2 linked regions of the Homo sapiens genome follow. The gene in region 1 interacts genetically with each later gene. Each region holds a gene or a part of one and is shown on either strand. Other genes may lie near its edges.

Evidence for each region. A genetic interaction does not mean that the proteins touch.
Region 2: changes in SREBF2 (region 1) and ACACA together harm fitness more than expected from each alone (negative genetic interaction), as found in Homo sapiens cells (one large-scale study listed by BioGRID).

Annotation. Positions count from the first base shown.
Region 1 is NC_000022.11:41,871,105-41,874,604, forward strand, and holds part of SREBF2 (sterol regulatory element-binding protein 2), read left to right. Parts: intron 1-2,693; coding exon 2,694-2,915; intron 2,916-3,500.
Region 2 is NC_000017.11:37,256,837-37,260,336, reverse strand, and holds part of ACACA (acetyl-CoA carboxylase 1), read left to right. Parts: intron 1-806; coding exon 807-977; intron 978-1,963; coding exon 1,964-2,125; intron 2,126-2,470; coding exon 2,471-2,634; intron 2,635-3,500. UniProt on the Homo sapiens protein: Cytosolic enzyme that catalyzes the carboxylation of acetyl-CoA to malonyl-CoA, the first and rate-limiting step of de novo fatty acid biosynthesis.

The DNA of each region.
Region 1 (3,500 bases):
GTTAAATCTCTATATGCTGAGTAGGTATGGGAGGGTCTATAGCACAAATCAGTCAAATTGTAAATGTCACCCCTCTTAGTTGTTTTTCGCTCGAAAAAGTATTAGCAATGTGTGTTCGATGTGGGAGTACTGGAGTCTACAAGGAGGTAGAAAAGAATAGCAGAAGGACCCTCTATTCTTGGCTAATAGCTCCACACAAGACCATTCACCTCTTAGATCCTGCTGATGACTTCTGAAGGACCCTAGGGCCACCAGGCAGGGAAGGGCTCCAAGGTGAAGAACATGGAAGGTACCCCATCCTTCAGTTGTAGGTTCTTAGCCACTTTCAGCATCCTATAGCATGAGAATCTGATAGAGTAAATGGTGATTAAAATTTAGAAGCACTAGCTTTATTCATAAAATCCAAGAACTGGAAGCAACTCAAATGTCCATCCACAGGAAAATAAGCACATTGTGATATATTCATACAATGAAATTATGCCTAGCAATTAAAAAACAGAACTGCTGACAGGCACGGTGGCTCACGCCTGTAATCTCAGCACTTTGGGAGGCCAAGAGGGGTGGATCACCTGAGGTCAGGAGTTTGAGACCAGCCTGGCCAACACGGTGAAACCCCATTTCTACTAAAAATACAAAAATTAGCTGGGTATGGTGGTGCATGGTGCATGCCTGTAATCCCAGCTACTCAGGAGGCTGAGGCAGGAGAATTGCTTGAACCTGAGAGGTGGAAGCTGCAGTGAGCCGAGATCGCACCACTGCACTCCAGCCTGGATGACAGAACGAGACTGACTCTCAAAAAAAAAAAAAAAAGCTACTGATGCATGAAACAACATGGGGCTGTCCCTCAGAAATAGTGTGTCAAGCCACCGGGCGCAGTGGCTCACACCTGTAATCCCAGCACTTTGGGAGGCCGAGGTGGGTAGATCATGAGGTCAGGAGATCGAGACCATCCTGGCTACCATGGTGAAACCCCGTCTCTGCTAAAAATACAAAAAATTAGCCGGGCATGGTGGCGGGCACCTGTAGTCCTAGCTACTCGGGAGGCCGAGGTAGGAGAATGTCGTGAACCTGGGAGGTGGAGCTTGCAGTGAGCCAAGATTGCGCCACTGCACTCCAGCCCGGGCGACAGAGCAAATCTCCGTCTCAAAAAAAAAAAAAAAGAAATAGTGTGTCAAGCCAAAGGAGTTCATGCTAATGAGTCCATTTATATGAAGTTTAAAAAGAGGCAAAATGAAGCTATGGTGCTGGAATTCAGAGCGGTGGTGACAAGGAGGGGAGGGGCATGCGGGGACTTTCTGAGCTGGTAGAAATGGGCTATATCTTGGTCTGGGTGGTTATATACATTGTGTACATATGTAAAATTCATCAAGCTATAAACTTAAGATTTGTGGTTTTTATTGTGCATGACGTACTTATTGGCAACTAATGAAATTGGGCACCTTTTTATTTATTTATTGGCTGATTAGATATTGAGGCCATTATTTAAGAAATTAAACTAAAATTGGTCCAGGCCCAGTGGCTCACGCCTGTATTCCCAGCATTTTGGGAGGCTGAGGTGGGCAGATCACCTGAGGTCAGTAGTTTGAGATCAGCCTGGCCAACATGATGAAATCCCATCTCTACTAAAAATACAAAAATGAGCCAGGTGTGGTGGTGGGTGCCTGTATTCCCAGCTACTCAGGAGGCTGAGGCAGGAGAATCACTTGAACCAGGGGGGTGCAGGTTGTAGTAAGCTGTGATCACGCCACTGCACTCCAGCTTTTGGGCAACAGAGTGAGACTTTGTCTCAAAAAAAAAAACAAAAACAAAAAAACAGGACGTGGTGGCTCACGCCTGTAATCCCAGCACTTTGGGAGGCCAAGGCGGGTGGATCACCTGAGGTCAGCAGTTTGAGACCAGCCTGACCAACATGGAGAAACCCCGTCTCTACTAAAAATACAAAATTAGCCAGGCATGGTGGCGCATGCCTGTAATCCAAGCTACTCGGGAGGCTGAGGCAGCAGAATCACTTGAAGCTGGGAGGCAGAGTTTGTGGTGAGCCGAGATCACACCATTGCATTCCAGCCTGGGCAACAAGAGCGAAACTCCGTCTCAAAAAAAATAAAATAAAATAAAATAAAGTTAGAAAAAATAAGAGGAGAAAACAGAGATGAAGAATAAAAAGGGGAGACCTCCATGGTTGGCCTATTTACTTAATCAAATGGCTCTTATTGAGAGTGTCACTTCTGCCCTTGAGCTTTTTGATGGCAAAATTGTATAAAGAAATGCAGTAATTTGCTTAATTGTCATTTGAGAGGAAAAAATGTGTCATACACTAGGAGAAAGTTTTCTCTGGTGCCAACTCGTGGTTCACCGTGTACAACTTTAGAAGTGGTTAACAGTTTGACAGCAAAGCAGAAATCATATGACTTGTTTCTGGCATACGTAGATCAAAACTTAAAACATATTTAGCCATGTTAATCCTCTTGTGGTGTAGTTTATCAGCAGTGATTCTTGAAGGGAGGTAGTAACCAAGGTTCCGTGGCTCCTGAGACTTCTTGGGGCCTGATTTGATTAACCCAGGAAGAGTCTCAGACCTCATGAAGTACTGCCAGGTCTGGCAGCACTTGGCCAAAGCGGGCAGGTCTGTGTTGAGGTTGCTTTATGCAGACTAACAAAGGGATCATTCTGCTGTGTACCTGTCCCTATTCTAGACCCTGGTGGGCAGCAGTGGGACCATTCTGACCACAATGCCTGTAATGATGGGGCAAGAGAAAGTGCCCATTAAGCAGGTACCTGGGGGAGTCAAGCAGCTTGAGCCCCCCAAAGAAGGAGAAAGGCGGACAACCCATAATATCATTGAGAAACGATATCGCTCCTCCATCAATGACAAAATCATCGAATTGAAAGACCTGGTCATGGGGACAGACGCCAAGGTGGGTGCCAAGCAAAATTGTGTTTTATGTTCCACCATCTCCCCTCTACCTGTTTTTGCCTCAGGAGCCTAGAGAAGTCCCAGGCTCAAGGTAAGTGAATACAAGACCGAGTTAGAGGTGCTTTTTTATTAAAGCATCTTGGTGTCATGTCAAGATTATAAAATATTAAAAAACATAAGGGACTGGTGAGGGTTGATAAGGCAGTGACCCGCTGAGACCTTTGACTCCTTTGGCTATGCTCTGCAGTGATGGGGACTCCACTGTCAGAGGCAGAGAAAGATGCCTGCCACTCAGTAGTTCCAGATACAGGACTGTGTGTACCTTGGAGTCAGCTGATGGCATAGTTTTAGCTGTGTTTAGGGGTTACCTTTTAAGGAAAAGAAAGAAAAAAGAGGTTGAGTCTTTGACCAGCAACACATAGAGGAAACTGATGTTCCAAATGTTTCTGGTGTTTCAGTGTATGTGTCTTCTAGAAAGTAGGAGATTTTATTTTTAAAACCTATCTATGTTTAAACCCTATTTTGAAAGAAAATTTCATTTTCCTTGCCTACAAATCTGAAAGCTGTACATCCTAAGTAAAAATCT
Region 2 (3,500 bases), on another chromosome or scaffold:
CAAAGCGAGACTCCATCTCCAAAAAAAAAAAAAAAAAAAATATATATATATATATATATATATATATATATATATATATATATATATGACTTGGGAGTTATGCATATCACTTACCAATGCTGGTGTCCTGTTTGTCAAAACTTAGCCACTAACCAGGCCAGGCATGGTGGCTCACGCCTGTAATCCCAGCACTTTGGTAGGCCAAGGCGAGTAGATCACTTGAGGTCAGGAGTTTGAGACCAGGCTGGCCAACATGGGGAAACCCCATCTCTACCAAAAATACAAAAATTAGCCAGGCATGGTGGCGCATGCCTGTAATCTCAGCTACTTGGGGGGCTGAGGCAGGAGAATCACTTGAACCCGGGAGGCAGAGTTTGCAGTGAGCCACGAGATTGTGCCACTGGACTCCAGCCCAGGAGACAGAGTGAGACTCTGTCTCAAAAAAAAAAAAAAAAATCTAGTCTCTAACTAGTTAGCTATGTTTCTAGGAAGAAGAGGAGCATATTGGAAATACTGGAAACTGGACAAGAGTCTGTCCCCATGTTTTTTTGTCTGCATGCATTTATGTCTGGTGGGGTGAGGTTGCTTTTGATGCAAAGTGAAAAATGCTCTTTTCTCCCGATTTTTCATTGAGTTTTTCATCCTTGTCCAGGGATATTGTATAATAATCAGAAATGTGCTCTCATGTGGCTAAAAGCTTTTGATGGCTCTTATACACACTGAACAGTTGAGTCAGTGAGAGGCTGTAGTGGTCTAGCAGTTGGATAAGGTGAGATACTTATGTTTGCTTATCTCTCTTCTTTGAGTGTGCGGTGAAACTTGCCAAAATGGTGGGTTATGTGAGTGCTGGGACTGTGGAATACCTGTACAGCCAGGATGGCAGCTTCTACTTTCTGGAATTGAATCCTCGGCTGCAGGTAGAGCACCCTTGTACAGAGATGGTGGCTGATGTCAATCTCCCTGCAGCACAGCTCCAGGTGAGTCTCCCTGATCTGGGTTGCAGAGCCTAGAAAAGTCAGAGAGGCCTGAAAAATGGGTTTAACCAGTGTGTGATAAGAGAAAAGCACCTCCTATCTGAGTCACACCTAATGGTCATTTCTCTTTCACCCTGTATGTGTTATGCATGTGTGGTTTGGTTTTCCTGATGTAGTACAGACATAGGAATGTTATTTTTTCTAGCCAGACACATCTGATATAATGTGTCATGTTTTAGAAATAAATGTTAATAATGTATGCTTTATTCAATTATTTAGCTATAGTAAACTTCACAACTTTGTATTATAATTATTCCCTACTCATTTTTGTTTTTTTACTAGTGTTCTTTATTGAAATAATTCTGCATCAGAGATTAGTGGTTGAAGTTTTTCCTTACAAGAGTGTGGTAGCACACATATATTTTTATAATTTGTAAAGTGCTTGCTGTCAATATTATTGTCTTCTCTCAGCCCAGGAAACAAATATTATGGAAAGCAGTAATAGTTAATGATAAGGCTTGATATTATTTTTATCTAACATTTGCCCACATCGAGAACACCTTCTGGGTTCCTATTAAAGACTAAAGATTTACTTACTTCCTCCAGTGGTTTGCAGGGATGGAAGAGATAATTATGACACAATTAAGACTTTCTAGCTGTCTGTTTTTGGATGGCTATTAACATTTACTCCTCTGTTGGATATTTTCATTCTTATTACGTGATGGAGAAATGACAACAGGGGAACTGGTGTCTGTTGCATTAGGAATGTGGGGACTTCTTTAGAAGTGGAGAATATTCTAACTACTTATCTGTAGTGATATATTGTATTTCAAGCAACTTAGAGTTGATGATTGTAGAATACAGGTTATAAAAATAGAATGTTTTAGGGAGTGGCTCCAAAAATAAAAATATTTTAGGTTATCTGATAGCCTCTACACTTTAAGGGAAGTAACTGAAAAATTAAAGATGTGTGTTTTATTACCTTTCAGATTGCCATGGGGATTCCTCTATATAGAATCAAGGATATCCGTATGATGTATGGGGTATCTCCCTGGGGTGATTCTCCCATTGATTTTGAAGATTCTGCACACGTTCCTTGTCCAAGGGGCCATGTTATTGCTGCTCGGATCACTAGTGAAAATCCAGATGAGGTAACCCATCACTTAAAAGGTTTATACCTCCTTTTAATGAACTTTAATGTTAAGATAGTATCTGAAAGTATACTTCTGAAATATCTTGGGACTTCCTCTGGAGTGGGAAACATAGAGGTTTCTCAGAGCAGATAAGTAAATGGTTGTTGCTTCATTGGTTACTTAATCCCACTTAAGTCACTGTAGAGTCTTCAGTGGGTCTGTGGCACTGGGTCTTGGCCTTTATCATTTTTGTGTGTCTTCTCTGCTTCTGTGTGTGATTAACAGAGAACTTAAACAATGAATATATAAATCTTCTCTTCCTTCGAAACATAATATGGTCTCTCATTCTTTATTCTCTAACAGGGTTTTAAGCCCAGCTCAGGAACAGTTCAGGAGCTAAATTTCCGCAGCAATAAGAATGTTTGGGGATATTTCAGTGTTGCTGCTGCAGGGGGACTTCATGAATTTGCTGATTCTCAGTTTGGTCACTGCTTTTCTTGGGGAGAAAACAGAGAAGAGGCAATTTCGTGAGTATAATAGCATTTGATTGCATTTTACAAAATAAATTTGTGCTAATCTTAAGTGAAGGTGTGAGCATGGGAATAGGAATCATCTGCTGTCAAAGTAATAATATGAACAACCTTTTTGAAGAAATTTTGAATATCTTTAATTACACTTGCATTCATGTTGTATTAAATTATGCAGTGCTTGGCAGATGTTTTTCTGTTTGTTGTTCTGAGCCTTTTGAAGTATTTTTCCTTTCAAATATTTTTGATAAATGTATAAAATTGATTGCTTTAAAGGTATCTTATTTTTCCACAGGAACAGTATTGTTATTGAGGGGAGGTAGATTCTTGGCCAAGAACTAGGTATCAAATAAATCATAGACTTTTATTTTATTTTTTTCTTGTGAGAAGACTTAAAATCTATTAGCAATTTTCAAGTACACAATCTATTGTTATGAGCCATAGTCACCATGATGTACTCTTATAGTTATTTAAAATAATAAAATTATACTGCTCATATTATGAAAAGGACATAAAGAAACTGTCTACATTGCTAATACAAGAGACCTTAGCATGCTGTATATAACAGCTTATGCAAATATAACTGCTATATCATAAATGTTAGATAATATTCTGTTAATCATAAACAATGAATATTAAATTAACAGCACTTTTGCTTGCCTAAAACATAGGGCTGAAGGAGGTAATTTTAACAGCTTAGATCTTTTGGAATATCTATCTAAAATTGAAACTTGAACTAGTTCTTTTCTGTTTTTTAATGGTTTATTGCCTTGTATCAAACATTTAATACCATTCCCTTTACCTTTGTACTGTACATGGAGTAGGTAATTAATAAGTGTTTATTAGTATTAATTACTAATAAATAG